Linked DNA regions of Homo sapiens: region 2 is linked to region 1. The links come from fine-mapping of genetic effects on gene expression. Tissue or cell type: skeletal muscle. Region 1 holds a variant in brackets; the other region holds the start of a gene. All regions are shown on one strand. Distances are between the middles of the regions.

What was found. PIP is the estimated chance that this variant, and not a neighbour inherited with it, causes the effect.
Region 2: CPMER starts here. The variant in region 1 is fine-mapped to the expression of CPMER in skeletal muscle (GTEx, PIP 0.99).

Annotation. Positions count from the first base shown.
Region 1 is chr22:27,529,192-27,537,541 of GRCh38, forward strand. The region is part of intron 1 of LOC105372981 (a long non-coding RNA gene); the gene reads right to left. Among named protein-coding and RNA genes, the nearest start is that of CPMER, 180 kb to the right of the region's middle. The variant G/A (reference allele first, on the strand shown) is at 5,260.
Region 2 is chr22:27,710,035-27,718,034 of GRCh38, forward strand. It overlaps CPMER (cytoplasmic mesoderm regulator), which reads right to left and starts at 4,936. Exons shown (of 5, transcript NR_186699.1): 1 at 4,847-4,936. RefSeq lists an enhancer at 7,714-8,000.

The DNA.
Region 1 (8,350 bases):
GAAGGAAGGAGAGAAACGCACACAAGGACCCTGAGTCAGGCGATTGCAGCTCTGGGAAGGATGTCTAGAACAGCTGAAGCAGAGAAAACCAGAGAGACCAAGCTAGAGGATGAGGCCTCAGAGACCAGAGGGGCCGGTTCACATGGGCCCTTGCAAGTCACTGGCAGGATTCTGCACTTTTCTCAAGGGCACTGGGAAGCCATGGATGGCTCAACCTAGAAGGAGCCTGATAAGCTCATAGAAGACCAGAGTCCTCTGCCCCGAGCAGCAATTCCTGTGGGGCCTTTTGTGGCCACACTTGACTAGGTACTGGGGATGGGTTCATTCATAAATTAGGTTTAGCCTGAGTGCCAGGAGGAGGGGCCTCACAGGCAAGACGTTTGTTCAGGGTCAGGTACCTAGAACATTCCCTGGCTGCCACCAGAAGGCTCTGTCTTTACCAAAAAGTCATCCCAGGAGAGCTCACAGCCAGGTTTTATCACTGCTCTCAACCCCAAGGCCACATTTTTTCATCTCAGAGCCTCACACCTTGAAGGCCGGCAGGCTCAGTATAAAACATCCCAGCACGGAGCCAGTGCACAGTAGGTGTTTCATGACAAAAGCCACCATTCTTTGAGTAGTTACCATGTTCTCATGGTTCTGAGAATTTCTATTCATAAACATAGTTAACCATCATATTACTCCATGAGGTAGGAACCAGTATCCTCTTTGTTCTGGAGATGTCTGTCAGACTGATGCTTGGAGACGTTTCTTTTCAGGGCCAAGGCCTCAAAGAGGTCTCACAGCAGGTCTCCATCACAACCACCTGTCTTCTTAACTCCTTCTCTGCCCCACTTCCTCTTTACACATAGTAGGGCATCCTCCGACTCCTTCCAGAGGCCATTTGCACGTATTTTCTTGTGGGTAGCAGAATGAGGGTCACAGCCAACAGCAGGGTTAAAGTCCCTGCACATGGGCTGTGGTAAGGGTTGAGACAGCACTGGTAAAGCACTGGCTTAGTAGTTGGTATTCCATACCCACTTGATAAATGATGGAGGGTCCATGATGACTGGACCCTCACATCACCATTGAGCCAGGGATAGCTCTGTGGTATTCATTCCACTGGTCAAATAGGTCAAGGGAGGCCCAGAGAGCTAATGTCAAGCCAAAAGTCTCACAGCAAGATCAGAGTTGGGACTGTCCCAACCCCACACACAGGATCCACGCATTGCTCCATAGAAGTTTCCTGAGGGCAGGACCACATCTATCTTGCTTACTATCAATAGTACTAGTTGAGATGGGGGCAGTGGTTCATACCTGTAATCTCAGCTACTCCAGAGGCTGAAGCAGGAGGATCACTTGAGCCCAGGAGGTCAAGGCTCTAGCAAGCTGTGATTGCACCACTGGACTCCAGCCTGGGCCACAGAGCAAGACCCTATCTCTACAAAAAATGAAAGAAAAATAAAAAATAATACTAGCTGAATGAATAAGTGAGCCATTGCAGCAGACAGACTCTTCTCCTAATGTTTATGCCCTTATGTAGCCAGTCCCTTTTCCTGGCATGTGGGAAGAGCCTGTGACCTGCTTCTAATCCACAAAATAGAGCAAATTGACAAGATGTGTGTGATTACATACTTAAGATTATAGCACCCATCTTCCTGGAATCTCTTGCTTCCTGACAGCTTTGAAAGCAGCAAGCTGCCAAGGTGTAGGCTGCCTATGTTGGGAGGCCCATGTGGCAAGGAAATGTGGGGGTTTCTAGGAGCTGAAGGTGGCCTCTGACCAACAGGCAGGAAAAAGCTGAAGTCTTCAGTCCTACACCCACAAGGACCTAACTCCTGTCAATCATCTGCATGATCATGGAAGCAGATCTCTCTCCAGTTGAGCCTCAGATGAGAACACAGCCACAGCTGACACCTTGGCTGCAGTCTTGTGAGACCCTAAGCAGAAGACCCACCCACACCATGCTCAGACTCCTGATCCACAGAAACTACGAGATCATAAATGTAAATTGTTTTAAGCCACAAAATTAGTAGATGTTACACAGCAGTAGATAACTAACACAGCCAGAGACAGCCATAGCCATAGTTCCCAATTTGACTCATTCACAAACCAGTTCCTCTTCCATAGTTTCAGTCAAGGGAGATTTTACCAAGACAAAATGGCCGAGCATGGTGGCTTACACCTATAATCCCAACACTTTGGGAGGCCAGACAAGAAGGATCATTTGAGGCCAGGAGTTCAAGACCAGCCTGAGCAACATAGCAGGACCCCATTTCTATTTAAAAAAAAAAATTAAAAATTAGCCAGGCATGGTGGCGGCACCTGTAGTCCCAGCTACTTAGGAGGCTGGGGCAGGAAGATCACTTGAGCTCAGGAGTTCAAGATTGCAGTGAGTTACGATGGCACCACTACACTCCAGCCTAGGTGACAGAACAAGACCCTGTCTCAAAAAAAAAAAAAAAAAAAAAAAAAAAAAAAAAGAGAGAGAGAGAGAGAAGAAAGAAAACCATTTGGAGCCATTTGGAGCTGGGAGTGGAGGGAAAAGGGGAATTCTTAAAACCGTCCCTGGGAGCTCAGACGTGGTTGAACATGAAAATACACTCTTCTTACAAGTGGCTTGGAAATGGGACCTAATGTAATTATCTTAAACAAATTCACAAGAGGAGAACATTCCTGCTTGAGGTCATCTCAACTAACCAAGGCAGCCTTGCTCTGCTCAGCCTGACACAGTGCTTAGCCTGGGAACCTGATTTGGACTGAGAAAAAGACCTCTCTGGCTGTCACTGTTCCATGTGGATTCTCTGAATGTCAGAATGTTCCAGGCATCAACTCCTTAAGTCTATGAGTCATGAAATTCCAGACCTCTGCAGGCACTGGAACGTAGACTGTGATAACCACCACATTTGTCCTAATCACCAATTTGTTTCTAGATAATCTAGTTTGGGTGGTAGAGACATGGATGAACACAGCTGGGAGTGTGTTGATGAATGTTGAGGCAGTTGATAGGTACCTGGGGGTTCTTTATACTACTGTTCTTTTTGCTTTCACACGTTTGAGGTTTTCCATAGTGAAAAATTAAATCAGTGGAAAGGCAGTGCAGTCCAGTGGTTATGTGCATGGACTCTGGGTCCCGCAGATCTGGGGGTGTGTCCTGGCTCATCCAAACTACATCATCCCAGGCTGAGTCTCCACAGTAGTAACCTCAGTGAGATTTTTTGTTTTGTTTTGTTTTGGTTTTGAGATGGAGTCTCGCTTTGTCACCCAGGCTGGAGTGCACTGGCGCGATCTCAGCTCACTGAAAGCTCCGCCTCCCAGGTTCACACCATTCTCCTGCCCCAGCCTCTCGAGTAGCTGGGACTACAGGCACCCGCCACCATGCCCAGCTAATTTTTTTGTATTTTTAGTAGAGATGGGGTTTCACTGTGTTAGCCTAGCCAGGATGGTCTCGATCTCCTGACCTCGTGATCCGCCCACCTCAGCCTCCCAAAATGCTGGGATTACAGGTGTGAGCCACTGCGCCCAGCCAAGATCTTAGCTCCATTTTACAGATGAGGCCACTGAGGCTCAGGGAGTGGCTGTGACTTGCCCGGAGTCTCACAGCTGGAAAGGCTCGAGCCAGGATTTGAACCAAGTCCTTTTGCCTCCAAAATCTTCTAACTGGTACACTCAGGACTGGCTGTATAATTTGTGGGACCCACAAAAAAAAATGAAATGCGGGGCCCCTTGTTAAAAAACAATGATGATTGCTTCTCGGAATAGGGGATTTGAAAAAATAATAATAATGATGAATTTCAAGTTGATGGCAGCAGAGCATTAAACCAAGCACAGGGCCCCCCGTGAAGCTGGCCCTGGCTACATTGTAGTGATGTTAGCTGCCATTATTCTTATTACAATTGCATATTCATAGTCCCCTGGAGTCTTCAAATCAAAGAACAATAGAACAGAATTCTGGTGTCTCAAGGATCTTGACGATCCCAGAATTACAGAACAGTGTCCACTCCCACAAATTCTTGCTAAGTCAGAACCCAGAACATGAGAAAGAATAAAAAATACTTTGGCAAATACAGAGTGCTGGAACCGGAAGAGGTCATCAAATCAGCCCATTTCACAGATGTGGAAATCAAGTCCCAGAAAGCAGTAGCGGCTTTCCTAGTATTCAGGACCCCAAGACCCCAGGGTTCCTCATCACCCCTGAGAGCAACTCTCTGGATCTTCCCATTCAGCTGACGGGCCTCCCCCATTCCTTCAGTTTCCAGTCCCTGGAGTGGGATTCTCCCTCCATTGTCCTCCTTTTGGGCCAACCTTCTCCCACACCATCGCCTCTCTTAGCTCAATGTCCCAGAAGAGTATTACCAGCAGCTGCTTAGCTCAAATTATAGCTTCTTTAGACAGAAAGAAAACATGGGATAAGAGATCCAGGCAAACATCGCCACTCTAAAGAGGCTCTCCTCAGCCTGTTATGAGTGAGGAGTTTGTTTTTTGTTAATATTTTTTCTGCATGGCGTGCTGCAAATAAGAACATTCAGAGAGCAAATTGGTGGCGTATTTATTGCTGTTGGTTCTTCAGCAGCACTAAGCCAGTAATAACGGAGAAGCTGCTTGAAGTGTGAGCTCAATTCCACCTGGTTAAAGCGATCAGGGCTCCGCTCCGGGGCTGTGTTTTGTCAAGTAGACACAGAGCACAACCCCAGAATGCCCAAACTAATAGCATAATCGGATTGAGACTTCCGCATGCTCCCCACATCCCTGCGGGTTCCCTGGGGCAGCAGGCTGGGCTCCGAGCTCCAGGTGCCCACCCGGTGCCCAGCCCAGACCTAGAGAAGACTGGTGCCTCTCCCTACCCAGCCAAGCCATGCTCTTAGCATTGTAACTTGCCCCTGGGTGCCTGAGAGGGATGGCAGTGTGAGACCTAAGTCATGCACCCAGGAGGTTGGGGGTGTCCCCTCAAGTAGAGGGTTTCACAGAGAAGATACCAAGAGGGTTGTCTTAAAGTCCAGCACTGGCAGTTCCTGGTTGAATGACCTTGAGCAAGTTACTTAACCTCTCCATCCGTACCTCTACTTCTCTGTAAGTAAAATGGGTATAATAATAAATACCTACATCGTAGAGTCACTATGAGGATTAAACTGAGTTAATACATGAGAAGGGAATCCTTTAGAACAGTGCCTGGCCCTTGGTAAAAATTACACAAGCACTGGGTTTTATTTATTTAAAATCTGTCGCCTAGGCTGGAGCAGAGCAGCTCAAACATAGTTCACTGCAGCCTCAAACTCCTGC[G/A]CTCAAGTGATCCTCCCTCCCCAGCTTCCATAGTAGCTGGGACTATAGGCATGCACCACCATACCCAGCTAATTTTTTTAAACTTTGTGTAGAGATAAAATTTTAATTTTGTGTAGAGGGGCATCTCACCATGTTGTCCAGGCTGGTCTCAAGGCAGAATCCTGGTGGCTCAAAAATCTTGATGATCCCAGAATTACAGAACTCTTGGGCTCAAGGGATAGCCCCACCTCTGTCCCCAAAAGCTCTGGGATTACAGGTATGAGCCACCATGCCTAGCCTTGGGTTTTTACGGGAAAGATAACAAGGTCTGGAGTCTGCAACCTGGACTTTGCACACTGTGTGAACCTGAGTGGGTCACTTCAGCTCTGGCTTCTTTTTCTGAACAGACACGAGGTGATAACTCATGCCTATGTCACCAGGGCCTGTGAGGGTTAACCAGCGTAAGGAGTGTTGATGGGTTTTGTAAACAGTGCTGTACGGATACTGGTTTTGTGGCCCGGTCGGGGCCTCTTGGGAAACAGTGTAGTATGCTGCTGGTGAGAGTGTGAATTATGACAACCACTTGGAAAAGAATTTGGCAATGTAGCCTCATGTGGAAGATGCACATACCCTCTGACTCAGCAATTTCACCCCTAAGAAGACGCCCAAAAAGAATTCTGGCTGATGTGCTCAAGATATACACATGGATGCTCATAGCAGTGTGTTCAAGGGAGTTTTGGGCGAGAAAACACCTTAGTGCCATGGCCAGGAGATCGCATGAATCAACTGTGGCACAGCTAAGCGAAGGACTCCCACACAGCCCTAAAAATGAATTAACCACATCACTATGGAACGATACCAGGGAATCTTTTCCTGGTGGAATAGCTCTGTATCTTGACTGTTGGGATGGTTATTCAAACCTACACACATTTTCAAGAACTGTACACCTGGGGTCGGGGGAAGAAATAAAAGATGCATGTAAAAAAAAAAAAAAAAAAAAAAAAACAAAAAACTGATGACATCTGAATATGGTCCACCCCTGAGTTAATAGTATTGTCCAGTGGTTAGGTGCATGGGCTCTGGGTCCCACAGATCCAGGGGTGTGTTTTGTCTCATCCAAGCTAAATCATCCCAAGCTGAGTCTCCACAGTAGTAACCTCAATGAGATTGTACTATTGTGTCAATTTCCTGTTTTGATCATTTTTACTATGGCCTTGAAAGGTATTATCATTGGGGGAAGCTGGGTGAAGGGTTCACAGGTTCTCTCTGTATTATTTTTTCAACTTTGTGTGAGTCTTTAATGATTTCAAAAAAAAGAATTAAAACTGATTAATTAATTAATTAATTACGGTGCATGCGACAACATAAAGGAATCTCAAAACAGAATGAGGAAAGATAAAGAAGAAAATACACAGTGGGATTCCATTTATACTGAGTTCAAAAACAGGCAAACCCTACACTATAGTATCTAGGAATCTTATACACGTAATAAGTCACTAACAAAGAGCCAACCCTGAACCCGGAAGAGGGGTTAGCCTTGGCAATAGAGACAGGTAGGTAGCAAGTGTGGTGGAGTCCACAGGGCTTAGCCGCATGGGTAGCATTGCATTTCTCAAGCTCGGTGGTGGAGAGGCTATTGTTTGTTTGGTTTTGCTTTGTCCCTTATGCCTACCTTATGTATTTCATTTTATTTGTATAAAATATCTCCATAAAAATAAGTTTTAAAAAGGGTTTGGTCTTTGGAGTCAGAAAGTCCTGGGTCAAGTGCTGGCTTTGCTGCCTAGCAGCCAAGTGACCTTGGCCAAGTCACTTCTAGGCCTCAGGGTCCTCTGTGTGGAGCCTACTGGGAAGGAAGACGGCTGTCTTATTATAGGGCCTTCCTAGAAAAATGACCTCCCAGCACCTTCAGGTATCTGGGCCTCCCTTTTTCTACAGGGACTTGGGGTAAGGCCTGAATGGACAGCTTTGCCCAACTGTGCGGCCCTGTAGGGGCACTACCCACCCATGTCCCTGATGTTTTCTGCTGGGAAAGGGAATGTGAACTCTATTATTATTATTTTTTGACAGGGTCTTACTCTGTTGCCCAGGCTGCAGTGCAGTGGCACAATCATGGCTCACTGCAACCTTAAATTCCCAGCCGTCGTCCTCCCTCAGCCTCCCGAGTAGCTGGGACTACAGGCACACATCACCATGCCCAGCTAATTTTTTTGTTTTGTTTTGGGTTTTTTTTGTAGAGACAGGGTTTTGCCATGTGGCCCAAGCTGGTCTCGAAGTCCTGAGCTCAAGTGATCCTCCCACCTCAGCCTCCCAAAGTGCTGGGATTACAGGTGCATGTTTAACATTGCTCCAGGTGTGTGCTTGCCCTGTCTCAACAACCCCTTCCCCAGCTTATCTCTCCCACTGAGAAGGAGTCACCCCAAGTTGCTTAGATTTGGGGCAGTGACTGGGCCAGGTTTGCCAGTGGCAGGGCCTTCTCCTGCATGGAATGGCCAAGCTTCCCTGCTTCCTATCTTTCTCTGATTTACCCACATGGGTACAGATCTTGTTGCTTTTCTCTTCTGCAACACGCTAGAGCAAGGCAAGCTTCCTCATTTGACTTAGATGGATAGTCAGCCCCTTAGACCTCATGCCTAGACCCAGCTGGGCCAACCCTCATGAACAACCATGCAAAGTTCACCTTCCTATCCCACTCTTCCCATCCATATTACACTTGCAGACCTTTTCCCATTTATTGCTTTGAACAATTTAATTCTACTCCTCAGAGGGACAGACCTGGTTCTGTGTTTAAAGCTCAAACACCAAGGCAAGCTCGACCACTATTCACCTCTCTTCATTTGCTCTTATGAAACATCACTGCTGTCCAGAATAAACCTTAGTCTTTTTTTTCCCTTGCTCCCAGCTCCCTAGATATGTGTGAATATAAAATATAAATATATGTAAATATAATTCTTTGGCCGTTTGTGTTCAAGATTTAGAATTTCCTCCTAGAGGGAAAAGGCAGGAAGGGAATGGCTTGTAAGCACAGGCTGTGCTTCATTAAGAAGCGTGTTTGGGGTGGCGATCACTTTTCTCTAAGCTAGACAAGCCGGCTGGAAGCTGACCTCTGTACATC
Region 2 (8,000 bases), 180 kb after region 1:
GCAGGAAACAAGCCCCTACTGCTGTGTGGTGCTAAGGTTTGGGGCTGCTTGTTACTACAGCCAAATCCAGCCCAGGCTGACTGATACAGGGACTGGGTGTGAATGACGGGAAGTGGGAGTGGGTAGAGCAGGGGGAGTAAGATAGCATAGGTGTGAGTGAAACCTCTACTGCTGAACAGTGCTGTGTTGGGGGATGTTTGCTACTATGGCATAACCCATCCTGCACTGACTGATAGAGGGACTATGTGGACTGGTGAGTAAGGGAATGTAAGAAGATGAATTTGTGAGTGAGACTGTGCATGTGACTATGTTGAGTTGTCTGTGAGGTTGTGAGTGGGGGTGTGAGGGAGGTCTGAAGGAGGTATTAAGAGTGTAAGGGGCACCTTCCCCCGCCTTGCACCTTCTCCGTATCTGGGGCCCCAGGCAGGGGTTGTACAGAGTATCATCCCACTGCCCACACCGGATACCAGTGGCATCTGCACTCCTTCCTCTTTACCATCGAAATTTCTCTCAAATCTCTCAGCTTCTCCTCCCCATCATGCCACCTGCTAACCTGACCTAGTCTCCCTACTGCTGGCCCCTGTCATGTCCATCTGGAGGGCACAGCTGCCCCCTCTAACTGCACCCACACTCCCAGGCCTTTCTCTGCACAGCAACCAGAAGTCTCTTTCTAAACCCAAGTCTGCGTCTGCCTTTCCCTTCTTTAAAACCCTCCATGGCTCCCATGGCCCCATCGCCCTCCTCCCCACAGCTGAGTCCTGACTCACCCTGTCTCTCTCAGGCTGCTGCCACACTGACCTCCATTCAACCTGTCAGAGCCCATGCTTCCTCTCCCCGAAGACCCTTCACACATGCTGTTCCCTCCCAGCCTAGAATGCTTGTCCCTTCTGCTCTTTACCTAGTTCATATCTCAGCTGCCACTTCCTCCAGGAAGCCCTTCCTGGTATACACTCTCATCACTCTATATGTCTCCCTCTTGAAGCACTGTGTGCTTACTCTGTGAGCTCCCTGTTGGGGAATGGGGAGTGGGGACTGGGTAGGGCCAGGACCTGCTCTTGTTCACCACTGTGTCCCTAATACTGGCATTGTAACCGGCACACAGTAGGCACACAATAAATGCTTGCGAATGAGCAAATGAGTGAGTATGCATGTGTGCATGTGTGTTTGTGGGTGTGATGTGTATGTGGGTGTGCCCCTGCGGTGACAGCTGCTAGAACCCAGTCTGGCCCATCCTCTTTCTTCCCTGCCTCTCCCTCCCCCAACAAGAACCTCAGAGGATGGGGCAGCCTCCCCATCTTTTCTGCACATCTCAGGGGCAAGCAGGGGCAACCTAATGGGAGAGAGGGGCTGCAGGACTCAGGCAAGGAAGGGAAGGTCTGGCTGCAACCAGCAAGGCAGGCTTGGAGGGGATGGCACGACCCTAACTAGACCTAGAGAGACAGGGAAGATTGGAACACAGGTCACTGGGGACTGAGACTGGTGGGGGTGGAAAGGGCTGTCCAGGTGGAGGGTAGAGCAATGAGCAAGGGAGGCCAGAAACTGACTTCTTTAAGTTTAAGCTCCATCAATGCAGGGATCACATCTGTCGTATTCACCACTGTAATCTCCAAAGTATAGTACCTGGCACATAATTAGTGCTCAATAAATATGGGGGAGAGAAAAGAAGGACAGTTTATTGCTCCCTAGGGCTTTTGGGGTGTTTTTTAGAGATGGGGTCTCACTATGTTGCCCAGGCTGGTCTCAAACTCTTAGCTTCAAGCAACCCTCCCACTTCAGCCCTCCAAAGTGCTGGGATTACAGGCAGGAGCCACCGTGCCTGGCCTCCCCAGGGCTTTTATAAGTCAGTCCTGGAGTCCTGAGCTCCAATCAAGGTTCTGCCACATATCAGCCTTGTGAGTCTGGGCAGCCCATTTGCCTTTTTGTAACTCTGTGTCCTCATTAGTAACATAAAAGTGAGATTTGCAGGCCCCTGTGAAAGACAATTGTTTCTGCCTGTCCAGCACCCTGATTCTCCCTCAGGGATCATCCGTCATTCTCCCACCTCCCTTGGACTGTGATGTTAGTTGTTTTTCGATTTTTTTTGTTTGTTTGTGTTTGTTTGTTTGTTTGTTTGTTGAGATGGAGTTTTGTTCTGTTGCCAAGGCTGGAGTGCAGTGGCGCAATCTCAGCTCACTGCAACCTCTGCCTAGAGAGTTCAAGTAATTCTCCTGCCTCAGCCTCCCAAATACCTGGGATTACAAGCATGTGCCACCATGCCTGGCTTATTTTTGTATTTTTTAGTAGAGACGAGGTTTCACCATGTTGGCCAGGCTGGTCTGGAACTCGTGACCTCAAGTGATCCTCCTGCCTTGGCCTCTCTCTGTGATGTTTAAGAGAGCCTTATCCCAGTCCCCAGCTCTTGGAAGGGCACATGACCTGGGCTTGGCCAATCAAAATGCTCCATTCCTGATCCTGTGATTGGCTCAGGAACATGCACATGACCCAAGTACAATCAGTGAGAATGAGTCCTGGAACTTGTGCTGAAACTATTAATAAAAAGCTTTTTTAGGTTTTTCTTGTCTTAGTTCTGACAAGAGAATATAGTTCTGGAATTACTCAGGATTCTGTAAAAAGAGCTTGCCTGTGAGAGGAAAATGGGACCAGGTCCTGCCCTGCAGACATTGTTGGAGCACCTAGATCCAGCCATGCCTGAAGCCAGTCCTGAGCTTTGTGTGTGTGTGTGTGTGTGTGTGTGTGTGTGTGTGTGTGTGTGTGTGTGTGTGGCTGGCACGTAAGTAAAGGCTATACAAATGGTAGCTATAATTAGCAGAATAGGATATGGCACACAATAGGTACTTGGTGGTGTTAGTGCCTGCCTTCTTTCATTCCCCTGCCCCTGGAAACATTGTAGCCTTACTGCCATCCCTTTTTCTGTCCATTATAGATGCTTCCTGAAGGATTGTGGGGCACGTTCAGGGCATGGGAAAAATGTGTTAATGGTAGAATGTCTGTCAGAGCATTTTCCTATCAAGCTGTTCTTCTTCCCCACAGAAGATGCTTAAGGAATAAGACAGATGCCAAAAATAATGAGGCCAAGAGCTGTCGTGGTCCTTGCCTAGCAAATTCACAGCTTCAAGCCATTCAGGCCCTGGGGCAGCCATAGAGAGGGAAGGAGTAGAGAGCCCTCGGGGGTCTTCGGGGGCTGGGCACCTCTCTGCATTAGGCTAACAGTGGGGCCTGGGGTTTCAGAGCTGAGGGCAAGTTCCCATCAGCAAGGCTGTGAGAGCATTTAGTGAATGCCTACTGGATGCTAGGCCTGTGCACTAGTGAATAATAATAAATGAGGAAGCTAGATCAGAGGGAGAAGACCTACACTTAGTAGGTGGTTTTTAACTGCTTATTGGTTGAATGAGTGGACCTTCAGAGATCCGATCCATGGATAGCCTTCACGCCCCAAATGGCCAGGTCAGTATGGGCAGGGGAGGCACTAACCTGGCTGAACATGGGGAGGGAGCAGAGAAGGCTCATGAACTGAGTTGAGCCTTAAAGAATGAGGTCTTAGCAACGAGAAATCCTGTGTGAAGGGGTGGAGAGAAATTCCTGGGAGGAGCAAAGGAGCAACATGCCTCCAGAATACACAGGGAAGAGGGGAGGCTCCAAGCGCAGCAGGGACCTTACAGATCATGCTAAAGAGCTCAGGCTTTGGAGTGGAGCATGGGGGAGCTATGGGAGGGCTTTGAGCAAGGGAGTGGCCTGATTTAGATTTGGGCTTAAGAAAAACCTCTCTAGCCACTATCAGATAGCTTAGAAGGAGAAATCCCGGAGGATGTTAGCATCAATCAGGTGAGTGATACTGGGGGCTGAGACTGATGCCAGAGATTTCAGAAGCAAAATCAAAAAGCTTGGCAGCTTTTGGAGTCAGATGGAAGGCAGCGTGGAGAAGGGGGCCCAGGGAAAGAAATAGGAAGCTCAAGTTCAAGGCCTGGCCTTCTGGGGCTGGGGTGCAGTTTCCTCTTCGGAAAATGGGACTTCATAATGTCTGCCCTGCTAAACTCAGAGAGTTGGCATGAAAAGCAAGTGATAGGATGACTGGGAAAATGCCTTGAATTGTATACAGCAGGGTCGGCAAAGGTTCCCTGTAAAGAGCCAGACAGTAACTACTTTAGGCTTTGTGAGCCATAAGTTCTCTGTCCCTCCTACCACTCAACTCTGCACCACAGACCATACATAAACACGTGGGTGTGGCCGTATTCCAATCAAACTTTATTAGCCCGGGGGTTGTGGTTTGCCAACCCGATTTAAGGCGATATGCAAATACCACCACTTTCTTCTGAGCACTCCTGATATCTCTTCTCTCTTGGCCCTGATTTCTTCCTATTTGTTCTGTCTCCAAAGATCACAGCCCAGAGAAAAAGAAAGTACACTTGGCCCTCCATATATGTGGGTTCCACATCCATGGACTCAACAAACCAGAGTGAAAATATTTGGAAAAAATAAAATGGATGGTTGTGCCTGTACTGAACATGACTTTTTTCCTTGTCATTATTCCCTAAACAATACAGTATAACAACTCTTCACATAGCATTTACATTGTATTGGTATTATAACTAGTTTAGAAATGATTTAAAGTATGTGGGAGGATATGCGTAGGTTATATGCAGATAATACTCCCTTTGTATATAAAGGACTTGAGCATCTGTGGATTTTCATACCCATGTGGTATCCTGGCACAAATTCCCCCTGGATGCTGAGGGATGACTCTACTTCTCCCTAGGTACTCATTGTATAAATGAGGAAACTAGATGAGAGTGAGAAGACCTACACTTAGTAGGTGGTTTTTAACTACTTATTGGTTGAATGAATGTACCTTAGGAGATCCAATCCATGAATAGCATTCATGCCCCAAATGGCCAATCTTATATTCGTGGCAGACATCACAAATCAATCCCAGCATGCTTCTCCGTGGAGCATTGATTCGGCTTCTAAATTCTCAAGTCAACGTTCCAAGTAGTCACCTTCTATTGAGATCAGCACATAAGAAGAAATGCAAACTAGTTCAACCCTTCTATTTTGTAGATGAGGAAATGGAGGCAAAATAAGGTGTCATGGGGGGTCTGGGTGGACCAGCTGGTGCCCTCTGGCTGCCTGTTTCATCCAGCCTGTCCAGAAGCTCCAGAGAAGCCCTCGTCCAGCTGGGAAGGCAGGGGGTGCCAGAGAGAAGCACAGCTGGACAGCTGGCATGGGCTCATCCCAGCGCCTCCCTGCCCAGCCACACTGCGATCGGCTCTGGCGGTGTCCCTTCTGTCCCCCACCCGCCTGCTCCCCACAGCTGCTCTTTTGAAAGCCCTGCATGGGAAGCTGTTGATGCGTCTCTCTGTTCCCTTTTCAGACCATTGTCCCCTCGCTGGCGCCAGCCGTGTTCTTCTCTTGGCTGCTTAATTAACAGTATTATTAAAGCCTAGAGGAAAGAGTCACCCAGATCCTCCCTCAAAGCCACTCATGCTTGGGAAGAGGAGCTGCAGGCAGACAGGAAGCAGGGGCTGGTGCCAGGAGATGCCCCCTCCCCGCCTCCAGGGCCCTTCACTTGCCAATGCCCAGTCGAACCACTTTTCCCCACCTTCCTGGGGCAGCCATTGAGGGCCTGGGAGGGAAGAGGCAGGGAGGAGGTGACTTGCAGCAAGCTTGTCTGGAAATACCCAGATCTGGTTGATAAACCCTGCTCTCAGCAATGGGTGCCAGTCTTCGGGGAGAGGAGCTAGTCCCCCAGCCCTGGGATCAGCTCAGAACTCAACAGTCACATCCTCACTACCTCCATGCAGAGAAGAAGCAGAAGCAGTAGCGGGAAAACATGTCCAGTAGCTGTGTGACCTTGGGCCAAACCATCGCTGTCTCTGTGCTCAATTTCTCCTGTGTAAAAAGTGCTTCTAATGCACCTAGTCCGGTGCTAAGCACTTCATGTGCATTATCTTACCTATTCCTTGTTCCAGTAATCTACTGCTGTATTACAGATTACCCCAAAACATGGTGCCTTAAAGCAACAACAATCATAATCTGTAATTTATGCAGGGTGCAGCGGGATAGCTCATCTCAGCTCCACATGGCATCAGCTGAGACAACTTAACTGTGGGGCAGAGAACCCACCTCCAAAATAGCTCACTCACATGATTGGCAAATTGGTTTTAGCTGTTAGCTGGGAGCTCAGCAGGAGCTATCCACTGGGGGCATGGGGGTGGGTCTCCATTCCTCTCCATGGGCTTCTTGGGCTTCCTCACAACATGGCAGCCAGGTTCTGGGAAGGAGTAACTTAGGAGAACCAGGCACAAGTGCATGGCATTGTCATGACCTAACCTCAGAAGTCATAGCATCACCTCCATGCTACTCTGCTGATTGAGGCAATTCAAATGCCCACCCAAGTTCAAGGAGAGGGAACTTCCACTCAACTTCTTGATGAGAAAATGGTGAGATTCTACAAGGGCATAAGGAATGAGAGATGTGGTTATGACCATCTTTGAAAAACACAATCTGCCACATTCTTCAAAACAACTGGAAGGTCAGTGCAATTATTATTTCCATTTTACAGATTAGGAAACTAAGAATTTAAGTCATTCAGAGAAGTTAAGTAATTTACCCAAAGCCACACAGCTTTGTGGCTGAGCAGGGTTGTGAACATATGCAGCCTGACTTCAAAACATAGGGTTTTTCAAACTTTTTTTTTTTAGCTGCAAAACATATCCTCCTAATAAAATCTTCTGGGAGAGATTTGTGAAAGGAGGTCAAAACAGAGTCAGTGGGGACTTGAACCCTGCCATTGCCTCCAGGATCCTCTCAGGAACTCAAGTTTCCAAAAAAGTTTGAAAATCCCAAGGTACGCTGTTCTCCAAGTCAACAGGCAACAAGGAAAAATCCCCTCCATTGTCTGGCTGGTCTACCTGGTCTAGACTCTGCTCCTGTCATCTTATTTTATGGGCTTCCTGGATTGCTGTCTATGTTAGCCCATTCTCACACTGCTATAAAGAACTATCGGAGACTGCATAATCTATGAAGAAAATAGGTTTAATTGACTCACAGTTCCACAGGCTGTACAGGAAGCATGGCTGGAAAGCCTCAGGAAACTTACGCTCATGGCAGAAGATGAAGGGGAAGCAAGCACATCTTTACCATGGGGAGAAGGAGAGCAAGGGAGCAAAGAGGAAAGTGCTACACACTTTTTAACACCAGATCTCACGAGAACTCCCTCACTATCACGAGAACTCCCTCACTATCACGAGAACTCCCTCACTATCACGAGAACAGCAAGGGGAAAATCCGCCCCCACGTTGCAATCACCGCCCACCAGGTCCCTCCCCTAACACTGGGGATTACAAATCAACATGAGATTTGGGTGAGGACACAGAGCCAAACGGTATCACTGTCCCTCCTCTGAGTTAATCCCAGCAACCCAGGTGGCTTCTCCATACCTGCCACCCTCATCCCAACTCCCAGTTCTTGTTGGAAGTGATGTTTAAAACAAACAGCACTGGCCGGGCACGGTGGCTCACGCCTGTAATCCCAGCACTTTGGGAGGCCAAGGCAGGGAGATCACAAGGTGAGGAGATCAAGACCATCCCGGCCAACGTGGTGAAACCGCATCTCTACTAAAATACAAAAAATTAACAAGCATGGTGGCGTGCGCCTGTAGTCCCAGCTACTTGGAAAGCTGAGGCAGGGGAATCACTTGAACCCGGGAGGCAGATGTTGCAGTGAGCCGAGATCGCGCCACTGCACTCCAGCCTGGCGACAGAGCAAGACTCCATCTCAAAAAAGCAAACAAACAAACAACAACAACAACAGCACTCTGCCAGGTAAAGGAAGTTGGAGGAAGGGTGGTCTAAACAGAGGGACTACCACATGCCAAACCCTGGAGTACAGGGCAGCCAGGGCAGAGAGTGGGCAGGGAGTCCCATGAGCAGGGAGCGGCATGAGATGAGGCTGGCAGGAAGGCAGGATTAGAGAACGCAGGGTGGAGAACTTTGTTTTGAAGG